Linked DNA regions of Homo sapiens: region 2 is linked to region 1. The links come from fine-mapping of genetic effects on gene expression. Tissue or cell type: whole blood. Region 1 holds a variant in brackets; the other region holds the start of a gene. All regions are shown on one strand. Distances are from middle to middle.

What was found. PIP is the estimated chance that this variant, and not a neighbour inherited with it, causes the effect.
Region 2: UHRF2 starts here. The variant in region 1 is fine-mapped to the expression of UHRF2 in whole blood (TOPMed, PIP 0.96).

What each region holds. Positions count from the first base shown.
Region 1 is chr9:6,496,715-6,504,714 of GRCh38, reverse strand. It overlaps UHRF2 (ubiquitin like with PHD and ring finger domains 2), which reads right to left. Exons shown (of 16, transcript NM_152896.3): 11 at 7,355-7,517; 12 at 6,557-6,697; 13 at 4,784-4,880; 14 at 4,006-4,163; 15 at 24-122. Among named protein-coding and RNA genes, the nearest start is that of UHRF2, 88 kb to the right of the region's middle. The variant C/A (reference allele first, on the strand shown) is at 4,723.
Region 2 is chr9:6,409,744-6,417,887 of GRCh38, reverse strand. UHRF2 (ubiquitin like with PHD and ring finger domains 2) reads right to left here and starts at 4,689. Exons shown (of 16, transcript NM_152896.3): 1 at 4,245-4,689. The coding sequence starts at 4,397. RefSeq lists silencers at 3,872-4,301, 4,372-4,551, 4,832-4,971.

The DNA of each region.
Region 1 (8,000 bases):
AGTGAGGAAGGAATTCTACTTACTTTACAGACATTGTGGAAGCACTCAGTTGTCACAGGCTGGTAAACTAGCTCCTGACAGCAAACGCACATAAAAGATTGTTCCAATTTTTTCAGAAAATTCTAGAACAGTATCCAAGGATAAGGAAAGAAAAGTTAGCAGTTCATAATATGCTAATAAAATTCATCTACTGTGTATTTCAAAACAGCTAGTAGAGAATAATTCAAATGTTCCCAGCATAAAAGATGTTTATAGTGATGAACATTCCAATTACCCTGATTTATTATATGTTATATGAACATATCAAAATTTCACATGTATCCCAAAATATATCCATCTATTATTTAGCAATAAAAATGTTTCAGTCACATTTAATGTCTTCTATTTAGAGGCCGGGCGCGGTGGCTCACGCCTGTAATCCCAGCACTTTGGGAGGCCGAGGCAGGCGGATCACAAGGTCAGGAGATCGACACCATCCTGGCTAACACAGTGAAACCCCATCGCTACTAAAAATACAAAAAATTATCTGGGCGTGGCGGCGTGTGCCTGTAGTCCCAGCTGCTGGGGAGGCTGAGGCAGGAGAATGGAGTGAACCAAGAAGGCGGAGCTTGCAGTGAGCTGAGATCACGCCACTGCACTCCAGCCTGGGTGACAGAGCGAGACTCGGTCTTAAAAAAAAAAAAAAAAAAAAAAAAAAAAGTCTTCTATTTAAAAAAATCAAGTACTCTTGATTTTTAACTACCTGAGAAGAGCAAAGTTATATAAAGAAATCCCATTCCATACACATTAGTTTTAAATCAGAGTATTGGGTAGGAAAAGTTGCAAAGTCAATATATGATGTTAAAAAGTCAATGTCCCCCTAAATGTCACATTCCAGGGACAAACTATTTTTCACTTAAAAAATAAAAAAATCATGGGCAACGTGTCTCAAGGTCATTACATACTGACTGCCTTTTTTCAAAAAGCTGTTTTGCACAGTATTCCAAAGTATGAACATGTATTATCTATTCAATCTTCTGCTGTTATAAAACTTGAATATTTGTCTTTAGGAGCTTAAAAAAAAACACTAGGAAACAATACTCTGTAGTATCTAATACCATAAACAAAACATTTATTTTCCTAGGATTATTCTGTCATATTTTACCTCAATCCTAAAATCCCATACCTTCCTGATGCTAATGTTTATTTACAGTAGGAGGAAATTATAAAAAGTAGAGCCACCTAATGTAAACATGATCAAATGGATACCCTGTATTCTTCAAAAGCCATTACTGGCTCCATTTCATCTTGGCTGGTTTTTTTTTTTAAGCTAGAAGGAAAACTAGTTTTTTTCCTAGTCATAAAGATAATCCTTCAGTTATTTTAGGTAGTAAGGGAGTATATTTCATATTTATTTTTTATATTAATAGAAAAAGTTAAGGCCAAGCATGGTGGTTCACACATGTAATCCCAGTACTCTGGGAGGCTGAGGCGGGTGGATCATTTGAGGTCAGGAGTGCTAGACCAACCTGGCCAACATGGCCAAAACCGTCTCTAGAAAAAAATACAAGAAATTAGCCGGGCGTGGTGGCGGGTGCCTGCAATCCCAGCTACTTGGGAGGCTGAGGCAGGAGAATCACTTGAACCCAGGAGGTGGAGGTTGCAGTGAGCTGAGATCATGCTACTGTACTTCAGCCTGGGAGACAGACCACAACTCCGTCTCAAAAACAAACAAACAAACAAAAAAACCTTACAAGTTTCAAATTTAAAAATTGAATGTCACATTTCAAAAGATGTCTCATATTAACTGATTTATGAACATGGATCATTAAAGTCAAATATATTACAGACAAAGTATTATAAACACATTTTTAAAATATGGCAATTATGTGGAGATGCTGGAAACTTTATAACAGGTACTCTCTCCCTAACAAACACCTTTGTTAATGACCAATATTTAACCTGGTACTTCCACAGTTCCTATAATACGGGTATATCTAATACAGGTATTTTGAGTTACAGGTAGCTACAATGTGCTAGGCACTCATCTACAGTGGTAATAAAAAGGCAGTCTGTGCTCTCCTGGAACTTACGTTCCTACAGCAGAGTAAACAAACAAAAACTGTTTCAGATAGTAATAACTGATGAAACAGAGCAAACTGACTCATGCCTATAAACCCAGCTACTTAGGAGGCTGAAGCGGGAGGATTGCCTGAGCCCAGGTGTTTGAGATCAGTCTGGGCAACATAGTAACCCCATCTGTTTGGACTTTTTAAACTAAATTTTAAAGAGTTGCCATTTTAGAAAGGGTAGTTTGGGAAGATCTCTCTGAGGAATCTATTTATACAGACTTAAAGGATATGAAAGAGTGAGACACATGAAAAGAGAATTCCAGTCAGAGTAACAGTATGTATGTAAAGGCCCAGGGGTATCAAGACGTCGAGCATGTTTAAATAAAACAGTGACCACTGCAGTCAAGCAATCTGGGCACAAGAGTACCAGTTTAAGAGGAGACTACAGATGTAGGTAGGGCTGCTGATCACAGGGCCTTTGGAAGGAGTTTGGACATAAATATATATACACATATGTATTTATTTAAAGTCACTGTTGGCTAACACCTGTTTTTTTCTGGCTTAATAAATGTGTTCCTGGCTTATCTGAAGAGAATGGGCATGAAACTTGTCCAGGGCAATAGTACATAACATCCAAAGTAATCACTAGCAGCAAGGTCACAATAATATGACCTAGGAAGGTCAGAATCTGTCCCAGTGGGACACTACCCATAGGGAAGACAACTTTCACACCACTCAGGTGGCTTTTTCCTCCATCTGTAATTGCTTCTCTCCCACCTACAGTGGAAACTCACCTCAGTTATCACTAACAAGCCCTATCTTTCCCAATCAGAGAATAATTAGGCTGATTAACAACTGCTTCCTGTATCTTAATTTCCTATAAGTGAAAATGAGTGTGACCTAACAAAGTCAGACTCTGCTTACGCCTGGGTGTCTTGGCTAAAATACAAGTAAACACTTCTCAAAGTGTAATCACTTTCCCCTGTCCTCTAAACATGTAAGCTTCATTTTGCCAAAGATAACTCAATGTATCACATTTATAGACAAAGGAAGTAACGATTCCAATATAAATCCAAATATTTGATAAATTTCAGCATTTCTAAAAGTTTAAAAATCATATTTAAAAAATTCTTCCTTAATAATAATGACTATTTCTCACAAAGGAAACTCTGTAGAGTTTTTGTGTTGCTGCTTTCAGCCTAGATAGAAAAGACATACAGACATGGGGGCACATCAACACTTTGGAGAGAAAGAAAACAGAAAAGTAATTGTATTATAAATGACAAGGGGTCAATATTTAATAGAAGATTCAAATTTATAAGTAAAATTAAAGACACAATAAGTGAGGAAAGAATGAAGAGATAGTTCATATTTGAAGACTCCAACTTTAGGGATTTGATAAGAAGGGCTTGTTTGCAAAACACAGCTTAACACAAAGCCCACACATTAATTAACTGTGATTCCTTTTTACTTTAAAATTATGTGATTAATTTAAAGATTAAGAAAAAATGAAAATTTAGAAACATAAAATACTTAATAGATAATCTGGTTAATTTTACCACTTAGTTTAACATGTAGGTTTTGAAAATTGTGCTGAACTGCTTAAGACTTATGCGGTTAGGTAACTTTGAACTGTAACAAAAACTTTCGTGGTGATTTTTAGATTAAAATGACGATGTTTCACAAACTGAAAATTCTTCTGAGGAACAGTACCTCAAAGTAAAGTAACTTTGGGCATAGAGAAGTCAAAATCCAGCATCTAAGAGGTTTAAAGTAAATTTAGGCGCATGTATATGTGTTGCCTCAGATTATTTCTGAAAGGTAGTGGCACTGGATTAGAAAACCGGGTAGAAGGATGAAGTTTTGACTGATGTGTGAAAAACAGACTTCATGAGACAATTATTTATCATTTGTTAATATCAGAATGTTATTATTTAAAAAAATCTTCACATACTGGTCCTTCCACAAGATGTGAAAGCACTTCATCCCACAGCTTCTGGTTTTGACAATCTTCTCTGATGAGATGTTGCTGTTGAGGAGTTAGTTGAAAAGCCTCAATTGCTTCTGCTGAATCTGATGCTTTGTACACTTTGGAGGCACTTGGACAGTCATCTAGATTTATTTTAAAAATGTATCAGCAGACTTACAAGTGGTTCTAAGCAGAACTATGAAACAAAAGAGTTAACTGGCACAAGTAATGTTTAGCAGAAAGATAACCAACATAAAACAGCATCTAATTTCCCCTAAAATTTAGGATACTGTTATTTCCTGCTATTTGGCTCTGACACTATTAAACAAAAGATCCATCTTCTACCATGCCCCCCCAGCCAAATCCTTTGCTTTCATTTAAGTCTCAATTTATTTTCTTAATATTTCTCTTTATTAAAAAGTATGTTGGCTGGATGCAGTGGCTTCTGCCTGTAATCCCAGCACTTTAGGAGGCTGAGGCAGGAGGATCCCTTCAGCCCAGGAGTTCAAGACCAGCTTGGGCAACATGGAGAAACCCCATCTTTACAAAAGATACAAAAATTAGCCAGGTGTGGTGGTGTACAGCCGTGGGCTACTTCAGAGGTTGAGGTAGGTGGATCGCTTGAGCCCAGGAGGTCAAGGCTACAGTGAGCCAAGATCTTTCCACTGCACTCCAGCCTGGGTGACAAGAGTGAGACCCCGT[C/A]TCAACAACAACAACAACAAAAGTATGTTATTATTATTTATATTTTGCAATCATTACCTACCATCTGAAATTGGCCTTTTTGTGGTTCCACTGGGCTGCTTCTTTGACTGTCCTTTAGGCTTCTTCCCTTCTTTATCTGAAGGGTAACCTGCTGGATACTGATGGGGGGGGAGGAGGGAGAGTACAATGCAGATTTAAGCTTCACAGAGAAGGGGGGTTTAGATCCTGGTGAGAAATTAAAAGGGAGGGGAAGACTACACGTTCCCCAAACTGAAAAACTTTACATAAAAGAAACAGACATTTAAAGGAAAAGAATTCAAAGCACAGACAACTATTAAAATCCCAATTTATGTAGCTGTGACTGCTAAGAGATTCCATTTTATAATACACTGATCTTAAGTTTCAGATCTAAGAAAGGTAAGTCTTCAGGAGTTGTGATTAGATTTCCTTAAAGTTTAAGGAAAGTAGAATACAGAAATGAAGGTAAATGAGAACCAATCATAGAGCACAACAGATAGAAAGCAGATGGATTGGATCACAGTAAATTGTGGAGTTGATCTAAAAAAATATCAAGAACATTAAGGGTCAAACTTCTCATCTCCTAAAGTTAGCGGCAGGAGCTTTTACAAGACCTAAAGCAACTAAATTACTAAATCCTCCACCAGCTAAGAGTTAGATTTGAAGTAATACATTCTATCTATCATCCTTATGTTTCAATGGCTACCTTCTTTGAGGGGGTGGGTGGGGTGGGAGAAGCATGCTTTGTAATAACAGTCATGCTTAAAGCACTGTATGTTTCAGGCCTCAATGACTATTACTCATCATAGCAGATGGGCTCACATGCTTCTGCTCACAGTTTCAAATATAACCTATCTAGAACAATGCTCTCAACAGGGACATCTGAAAAATCTTCTGAAAGTGAATTTGACAAAGTTATTTTTATATTAAAAAGAATTATTTTAGTAGTTGTTTTAGCAGTTGATGGCCTTATTTTCAACAATCAATTCTATGAGTTTAAAAAGACAACAAAAACAGAAACAGACTTGCATTAGAAGACACACACTCACCTGCCTGGGTGGTCAGACACTTGCCCATAGTTCAGCCCCTACACATGCAGTGTGGGCAGAGCCAGGGGAAATGATAAAGCTGGCAGTTTTTACGGGAAGCACAACAATGGGGAATGATGGGAGATGAACTCAAACCATGCTCTGAAGTCAGTGTCAGGGACAAATTCTAGGGTATACAGGCAGTGAAGGGATTAATGCAGCCATACCATCCACTATGCACACAAAATCAACGAAGTCTTTATGGGTTAACAGCTGAGCATGGGCAAAGGGGAAAAAAGACAAAGCACTAAAGGTGGTGGCAGGGCAGGGAAGCAGCTTTGCGGGGGAAGAGAGAAAAGGGGTGAGGAAAAGTGAGAAAGGGAGAAGGCAGACCACTCTTATAAAGCCACCTCCCCACCCTTCCCCTACCAGAGAGACACCCCCTGTGCCCTCTAGGATAAATGTCCTTTTCCAGGGCCTCCTATACCTAAATTTTATGAATCCCTTTCCCTCACACTTCAAGTCATTTCCAAATTGATTTGGAAATATTTTACTTTTAATTAACAGGTCCAACTTTTCCCAAGCACAACCCTTGGTCCCAGGGCAGTCTGACATCTAGGATACTACCTTTTCTCTTCTTTTCCTCTGTCTATTTGCATGATCTTATTCCTCACCCCTTATAGTCCACCAGTCAATTGCTGTGGGTTATATCCAGTGTTAAGGCATGTAGATAGAAGAGGTGTATATTTTTATGAACACACAGGCAGCCTAGACAAATGTAATCTAACCTGTAAACGTAGACATAATCTCCTTGACCGTTCTATTCCTTCAGAGGTCCAAGGAGCAGGTTCAACATCATCTCTTCTTAAAAGATAGCGCCAAACCAAGAATCCATGGCTTGATGAAATCTCTGGCCAGTATTTCACCACCTAAATCACAATATTTCAGTGCCAGTTTGAGATTTAAAATTTAGACTTATTCATCACATTAGTGGTATCAAAATAATCTTTGCCAGAACTAAATGCAACTTCTGAATATTCTGCTTTGCTGTAAGGACAGTAAGTCAAGAATATTCACTAAAACAGTTTTGACCTTAATTCCTATTACAGTACTTCCCATGAGGACAGACTGCTATAAATTTAATAGAGTAACAAGATTATGCTAATTAACAGAATTTTGTATCGTAAAGATGGCAGCAAATGCCTCTTTTTAAACAAAGAATGAAAATCTATTACTATGATGTGCTGCTTTGAAAATCTATTACAACTAAAATCATTCAAAAAGATATATAAAAATCAAGTTATACAACAGCCAGTTACTTAAATGGCTTTATTATAGAGAACATACACTTACATTTTAAAAAAAAAAACCTTAACCCAACTCTGCCCCTAGGAACTCGAAATAAGCCTTAAAAGTAAAGTGCTGAAGTTAAGAGTTTGCTTTATGCATCTGTTCAATTTCCAGAAAAAGTAGCAATATAAGATGGCTACTGTTTCCTCGAGCCCACCCACAGTAGTTCCTTGCAACAACCCTGCCTTGAAAGCCCAGGAAGAATGACAAACAAGATGTCATGCCAGATAGAGCACCTTATAAATGCCATCATATCTGTTGCCTTCTTCAGGAGCATATTTGCTGATCTTCCTCCCTTTAAAACTGCGTATCACTCTGACTGGCTTACCAGCTCTCCAATTCCGAGACTCTGCTCCAATTTTATCATCCAATGGAGCATCACAGTTTAGGGCCAATGCCCTAAAAAACAACAAAGAAGTCTTTATACCATGTAATTTTTCTTCAAGTACACAATCGAGTCATTAGCTCAATTAAAAGGTGAATTATACCTTACCTGATGGTTAAGATTCTATGATTCTTTCCATATTATTCCAGATAATAGGATTATGCTTTCCCCCACCAGCAGAGAAGACAAATCAGTTTTCTGATGTCACCCCCAAGCCAGGGGATTGGTTCTCAGATAGCCTGTAGGGTTCTTCTGAAAGTAATAACATCTGTGCCACGTATAATAGAAAACAACTAGAAATACATGGAATTTTTCTTTAAATAACGTTTGTTGGGGGAAGGGAGAACGTTGGAAAACTAAAGCAAATGATTTTTTCAATAGTGATCTTTGGTAAGGGTGTAAGGTGAATTGCTGGAATAATGTAGAAAGAAATCCAGAAATATAAATTTGTCAGCAAGGTACAAATGACCTTCCCAGGTCTACTTTCCACATTCCAG
Region 2 (8,144 bases), 87 kb after region 1:
CTACAGTCAGCTCCTGGTTAGTTTCTACTAAATGACGGTCAGGAGTAAATACAAACTGTTTCAACTGGTGCTTTTTAAAATTTGATTTGACAGGAAAAAATGTCGTAAGAGCACCATGTCTAAGCATATCACGGCATGAGACCCTATAAGTTACATCCACAGTAACATATAACCACCTTTCCTCATGCTTGCTATGACAGGCTTTTTAAACCCAGATTATCCACTCCTTCGCTAATTCATAGGTACTCCTCCAGTCTTCCTACAATAGTGACCATTTATCTACCGCAATAACAAGTTCCACACAACTTTATTCCACAAAGCTTCACATATTATGAAGAGCTGTGAAGTGTTGAGATGATTTACTTGAAAAGTACCGAAGTTCTTCCACATTTAATGAAAGTGAAGATTGAAAGTTATCTCTGACACTCAAATTAAGCTCTAAGTAGGGAAAAAAGGAAGCGGTCATTTAGAAATCACAAACATCTGTGAGTCAGAAGCATGTAACTTAGGTCCATCAATGTCTCAAAAGCAAATGTTTGAGAACTGCCATACTCGAAGATGGAGATGCAGTATTTACAATACTTAAGAAGCAAAAATGGTTAGGATTTTTTGTCAGACCACTCTTGAAATTTTACTGAGTTGAAAGAAGAAACTCCAGGTAACAAGAGGAACTGCAACAATGATGCAAGGGAATACTAGAAAGCAAATGCCAAGTGGAAGTGGCTGAGAGGGCAGTGGGAAGTCATTCCCAAGCAACTACTGACTAGGGATGCCAGTGAAGGGCAAAACAACTTTCACGTATCCATCACATATTATATATGTGTGTATTATATATGTTATATACATCATATATAATATATACATAGATATTCCTTTAAATAGGCAAGTACTTTTATATTCTGTGTGAAAACCAAGTGGGAGAGGCAACTTTTTTCTTCAACTATAGTTCATGCCCCACATTGTTATCTATTTTAAGACCACCTCTATAGTGGTAAGGAGTGAAAGAATGACGAGAGAGAATCCTTTAAAATAGGAAAAGCTCTGGATTCTCAAAAGATTTAGGCCGGGCGCGGTGGCTCACGCCTGTAATCCCAGCACTTTGGGAGGCCGAGGCGGGCGGATCACGAGGTCAGGAGATCGAGACCACGGTGAAACCCCGTCTCTACTAAAAATACAAAAAATCAGCCGGGCGCAGTGGCGGGCGCCTGTAGTCCCAGCTACTCGGGAGGCTGAGGCAGAATGGCGTGAACCCGGAAGGCGGAGCTTGCAGTGAGCGGAGATCGCGCCACAGCACTCCCGCCTGGGCGACAGAACGAGACTCCGTCTCAAAAAAAAAAAAAAAAAAAAAAAAAGATTTAGAGATCCACCAACATAATCTCTTCCTTAAAAAGACCCAATCCCCCGCGTGCCTCAAACTCAACTTCCCAGATAAGAATGTTCACAGCATGTTATCCTACTCTAACCAAAACTTATAGCCCTGAATTGCAGGTCTCCATTTTGACCCTCAAATGTGGAGTCAAGGCTGGGCACGGTAGCTTACGCCTGTAATCCCAGCACTTTGGGAAGCCGAGGTGGGCGCATCACCTGAGGTCCTGTCCTAGATAGAGACCATCGTGTCCAAAATGGTGAAACCTCGTCTCTACTAAAATACAAAAAATTTGCCGGGAGTGGTGGCGCACGCCTGTAGTCCCAGCTACTTGGGAGACTGCGGCAGGGGAATCGCTTGAACCCGGGAGGCAGAGGTTGTAGTAAGCCGAGATCGCGCCACTCCAGCCTGGCGACAGGGCAAGACTCCGGCTTAAAAAAAAAACAAAAACAACAACAAAAAAAGTGGAGTCAATTAACACTGCCTTCTCCAACTTCACCTACATACAGATCACCTGGAGATCTTGTTAAAATACAGATTCTGCTTCAGTAGGTCAGCTTCAGTAGGTCTGGCGTGAGGATTTCAGGTAAAGCTAATGCTGCTGGTCCTGAGAATCCAGGGACCATACTTTGAATAGTAAGAGACTAGTGGGAGACTATCTATCAACATTCATTTTCTAAACTCTGGTGTTATCAGAATCTCCCGTGGGGTCTTGTTAAATTCAACTACTTGCAGTTCTGGGGTGAGCTGAACATCTATAATAAATATCCACAAGCGATTCTGATACATACCAAAGATTAAAAGCTGGAGCCTAACATACGAATGGAGTATGGGGGGCGGGTACCACTTAAATAAAAATAAATGTATTGTCTACAATTTATGACATTTTTCACTACGTGGCAGTAAAGTATTTTGAAGTAGGGGTACCTTTTTCCAATGAGGACATGGTATTTTACAGGACGGGGACTCTCTGTGATGCCATTCCAGTAGTTACCTGCTACAGGCTGGCTACCTCATCTGTGGAGCTCCAGAGACCACGAAAGATAACACTCATTGCCATAGCTACTTGTCAGCGCATAAGAAAGTGAACACACAGCTGGTACCAATGACCTTCCTTTTCTGTTTCCAAGTTAATGGCTGGCACCAAAGGTCTATTCCTCTACCCTACTGGTTTATCACTGGGCTGAAGAAACCCAAGTAGTGAATTACCCACTAGGACCCTGGAAGAGGAAGTACAACGGTTATCCTCAGTTTTCCCTGGAATCTGGAATGAGCTTCCTAGTTTACTGAAAGTCTACTTTGTTGCCTTGAATTTAACCCAATCCCATATGTGATAATTATTTTAGCATATTTGATAATAAAGATTTTAGGAGTGTTGCCCAAGAACATCCTTCATTTCTATCTCTGGTGCTGAAATCACCAGTGTCCTAGGAATTCATGTACTATTTGTCCCCAGCTAGAAAATAAAATGCATCAAACGATTACATGCTTTTTCACTTGTGATCAAAAGGAAACGGTATCAGCCACTTGAGGCACAGCAAAGCAAATCTATGTAGTATTTAACAAGTGTACAATTATTTCAAAAGCAAAGCTTACAACTAAATACCTGTTTTTACAAGTCAAACACTAAGAAGTCAGTACAAAACTGGCTGCAAACACAAATCAAAGGTGCTATAACATTATTTTAAAGAGAGAAGGAAAGGGGAAAAAAAAGCTCTCTCCTTCCCAAAGTGTAATTTGTTACTATGAAATTTCTGGACAGTCTTCGAAGACTAAGCCTGTGAAGGGGAGGAAAATATTCCTTTTAAGTAGTTTGCAACTGTAGGCTACTTCTACCAAATCAAAGAGCTACACTTATTTAAAACCACAGGATTGGAGCCAAACTGTGGTCTATCAACTCAGGATGCCAACTTTTTAGTGTATTAACAACAACATGAAGACAAAGAAAAATACGATGGGTCTGAGTGGCTAGGGATATAGATTGTAAGAGACTTGTGGAATAGGAAAAAAACTTAGACTGGCCAGACCATAAAAATACCAGAGATGCCCACAGACAGCCTTCAAGTATGCACCGCTGGCTATGCTGCAGTGCTATGCTTAAAGCGTGAACGACATGAGTATTAGAAGGCGAGAAGTAAGAAAAGCAAACAGTCTTACACTCCTTTTCACTTCGGGAATAAAACTCTTGGCTTATATAGGGCATTCGTAAACCCGGCCCCCGGTTAAACCGACAGTTTCTTCATGCCCAGGTCTCTAACCTCCCTCGAGACATTCCAAACCTAGGAAAGGCGGCGAGGGAGAGGGACCAGAAGTTCTGGAAACCCTTCGAATCTTCAGTTTGCGCGAATCCTACCACAGTCAGGAAGCAGAGTTAGGGTTCTTATTCTTGAGAGCTCAATGCCCGAGTTTCCCCTGTTTGAGAGCCGAAGACGCGGAAGAGCCGCGGAAGCCAGGCGAACGCTCAGCCGGGTTAGCCAGCTCTCCGGGTCTCCCGCGCGGTGGCATGGCCGCCAGAGCCCTCTGCCCTCCCCGCCCTCTGGGGGCCCCAGGCCCCGCCGAGCGCGGGAAGCGAGGGACCTGGGCACCCAGTGCCTACGGCCGCTGTCCTACCAAATACAAACGGCGAGATATTTGCGCTCCGGACGCCCTCACTTCTGACCCCGCGCGGCGCACCTCCAGTTGGGGCTGGCAGGGACCCACTCCCCACCATTCGGCGGGACTGGGCCCCGCACCCCGCGCCTCGCGGGGGCTGCCCACCCGCAGCGGAGCCAGGTGAGCCCTGCGCGCGCGGCGCACAGAGCCCTCGGACCGGTGCGTCCAGAGGAGCCCAGCTGTTCCGGCCCCCAGCCTCGCTAGGGGCGCGGCGGGCGCGCCTCACCTGCTTGCCCCGGTAGAAGAGGCGCTGGCATTCGGGCCGCACGTCGAACAGCGCCCACACCCGCTCGCGCAGCTCCTCAATCGTGGCTTTGCGAGACACGTCCTCAATGGTGCACGTCTTGGAGCCATCAATGGTGCGAACCTGTATCCACATCTTGGCGCCTAGAGAGGAACCGGTCCCCTTTGTCTCCCCCTGAGCTCTGGGCGCCGCGCCCCGCCCGGCCCGCGCCGCTTTCCCTGCGGCTCGGGCCCTCAGCGGCAGGCGGGCGAGCGCGCCCACCGGACCGACCGGACGCCGGGCCCGACAGGCGGCGACGACTCTCAGCGCGCGCGCCCGACTAGCCGACTTGAGGAGAGACGACCGGAACCACTCTGAGGCGCTGCCGCAGACACCGCCTCAAAGATAGGAAGAGGCCATGTCTGCGCCGCGCAGAGTGTTTACTTATAGAGCTGGAGCTCCCACATGGAGGTCACGGCGCCAAGCCGGATCTCGCGAGATCCACGCCGGGCTCCGCCTTAAAGAGGAAGCGGCCCGGGAGAGGGTTACAGACCCGAGGGAACGAAAATGGGCAGGCGCGGAGAGGGCGGGTCGGAGGGGCGGGGCTACCAAAAGCCGTTACTTGCCCCACCGCCTGCACCTGGCCACTGGGCACGCCCTCTAGCCTTTGGGTTTCGGAAGATTGCGCGGCTACCACATCGGTTGCCGTTTTGAGGCCTCGTTTCAGAGCTGAGGGGGCGGGTGCCTCCTCAGGCTTAGCGGATATGGTTCTTTGGTCTCAAAAACACACCAAAAATAAGAAACCCTGGCGTGCACTTGTATAATCCTGGAAAGGGGGCGCGGGTGGGTGCGGCCTAAACTTCCGAGAAAGAACTGAAGGAAATGTGTGCGCTCCACCGCGCTCAACAGGAAAGCTCCCGCCACGCGGCCTGGCGGGTCGGGTCGCCCGGGAAAGGCCCCGGGGGCCCTCCTGCTTCGCGAACACGTTTCCCGCCTGGCCGCAATGCTACTTTCGCGCGGAAACCCACTTCCGAGGGTTTCCCGTCGCCTGGCGGAGGCGGCAGCTCCAGGCCTATCCTCAGGCCGCGGGTCCCGCTGGGATCGCCCTCTCTGGCTTGCAGCGCTCCCAGCCGGCCCTCCGGCCTTGGAGAAGTCGGGGCAGCTGCCCGAAAGGCCGCTCTCTAACTCCGGACATTTCCGTTCGTAGACTTTCCGCGTTAGGGGTGCCTTTGGCCTAAGGGATTGCGGGTTTGCGGGAAACAGTTTTAAATAATGCAGAGCTACGCGCCTCCGAAGAAAGAACTCCAAAGACCCTACTAGGATTAAACCCTCAGAAGTGGGCCCAACGCAGCACTACCTAACAGGGCTTCCCCCACCCCCCACCCCGCCTTCTTAATCCTTCCCTGCTACAGCTGGGGAGTCGGGGTGGGGGTGAGTGGGTTTATTTTATTTTATTTATTATGTATGTATGTATGTATGTATGTATGTATTTAGAGACGGAATCTCTCTCTGTCGCCCAGGCTGGAGTGCAGTGGCGCGATCTCGGCTCACTGCAAGCTCCGCCTCCCGGGTTCACGCCATTCTCCTGCCTCAGCCTCCCTGGGGTAGCTGGGACTACAGGCGCCCGCCACCGCGCCCGGCTAATAGTCTCGATCTCCTGACCTCGTGATCCACCCGCCTCGGCCTTCCAAAGTGCTGGGATTACAGGCGTGAGCCACCGCGCCCGGCCAAGTGGGTTTATTTTAAATGAAAATATGTCTTCTCAAGAAGGGAGAGAGGATATAAACGTAAACAAAACAAGACAACTTGGACTTCACATTTGCCAAAATCGGTAACTTAAATATTCACATAGGTGCTAATTATTCCCATAAAGGTACAGTACCATTTTTTTGTAATAAACTAATAAACAGCTAAAATAATTACAAGCACAGACAAATCCAGTAGTATATCATGAAAAAGAAGAGAAAGGCCGGGCGCAGTGGCTCAGGCCTGTAATCTCAGCGCTTTGGGAGGCCGAGGTGGGCGGATCACTTGAGGTCAGGAGTTCCAGACCAGCCTGGCCAACATGGTGAAACCCCATCTCTACTAAAAATATTAAAAAACTAGCTGAGCATGGTGGCAGTTGCCTGTAGTCCCAGCTACTCGGGAGGCTGAGGCAGGAGAATTGCTTGAACCCGGGAGGCGGAGGCTGCAGTGAGCTGAGATCACGCCACTGCACTACAGCCTGGGCGATAGAGTGAGACTCCATCTCAAAAAAAAAGAGAAAAAAAAGATGGCCCAACACAGAAGAGACAGAAAAAATTAACTGCACATACATATTTTGGGTTTCTGCCCCTGTGAAAATTTCAGTCACCTAGAACCTCTAAATATAATTCACTTGTCTACCCCTATTTTAATTAAAGCAAATATTGAGTATTTATTACATATGTAAATGAGATGATATTTAGGTTGGTGCAAAAGTCATTGGGGTTTTGCCATTTCTTTCGGTGGCAAAAACCACAATTACATTTGCACCAACCAAATCTACCTAAAGCACACTTACTACCTACCTCAATAAGGCGAAACTATTTATTATAAGGTTATGCTATTTACTATTATAACGTTATACTATGGCTTTGTGGAGTTACGTTAGGATTTTTTTTTTAGTTACCTCTCACAAAACAAATTACAATCTAGTTGAGATAAGATTTAACAAAAATAAAATATTAAAGAATAACTTAGTACTAAACACTGATGTTGGCGCAAACCATGATTACAGATGAGAGGAGAACTAGAATGATTAAGAAAAGGGGAACTAGAATGATCTGGAAGCTTAAAAATAACTGTACAACTTGACACGAGTTATGTGATACATTGTAGTAGGAGGCAGCATTTAAATGTTCAGTTCATGGATTGAGATAGACCGGAATTATAATCCCAGTTTTACTGCTTGCTTAAAAATGTGATCTTGTACAAATAACATCCTCAATTTCCTCAATGTAAAATGGTGCTTGAAATAACCTAATGATTGTAAAGTGGTTTGCATACTATCCCTTAGTAGTACACAATAAATTATTTTAGTACTGCTGTTATGGAGAAGATTTAGATAAACAGAGTATGCCCAAAGAGGAAAGAGTGCTTAAACAAAGACAAAAAAGTGTGCATTTTTTACAGGTCAGAAGAGACTGCAAATCAGAGAATGGTTGACTAAATAGAAAAGGGCAGTGTGTGAAAATTAACATTCAAAGCAGATGATTTTTGTGGGCCCCAGGGAAAAACTAAGATTTTTAAGGAGTAGATGGATGTAATTAAATATGCATTTGAAATAATAGCAAAAGGAATCTGGACAGATGCCTTAGGGAAAAAGTAAGGAAGAGGGACATGAGGGGAGAACTTATTGTCAGAAAGTTTACAGAGGAGGCAATTGTGTCAGTTTTGGTGAAATTAGTGGCGGTAAGTAGGAGAGGAGAGGATGTATTCCAGAGTATTCTAGAAAATTGAGCCTATAAAACTTGTAGGATTGTGGATATAAAGGATGAGGAAAATGGAATGTTGAGAACAGTTCCCAAGTTTCTAGCTTAGGAGATTTAAATTGATGGCTCGAGCAGATGGTGATGCTCTGAACTTGTAGAGGAGGCAAGTCGGGAAAATACAATGAGTTCCAAATGAGCTGTGTTGCATTTGAAATGCATCCAAAATATAGCATCTGTCTAGCTGGAGATGTCTAACTGACCACTGGAAATAGAAGTTTGACGTATTGAAGAGAAATAGGAAAGTTCTTAAAGAGGGACTTTTTAAGACCTCCTGTACACACTCTTATGAGATTTATCTTTCTTAATGTGATGGGGCTTTAATGGAGAACTGCAGGGGTGGGGAGGGGATAAGATGACTGTCTCAAAATTAGGTATCTACTGAGACTGTATA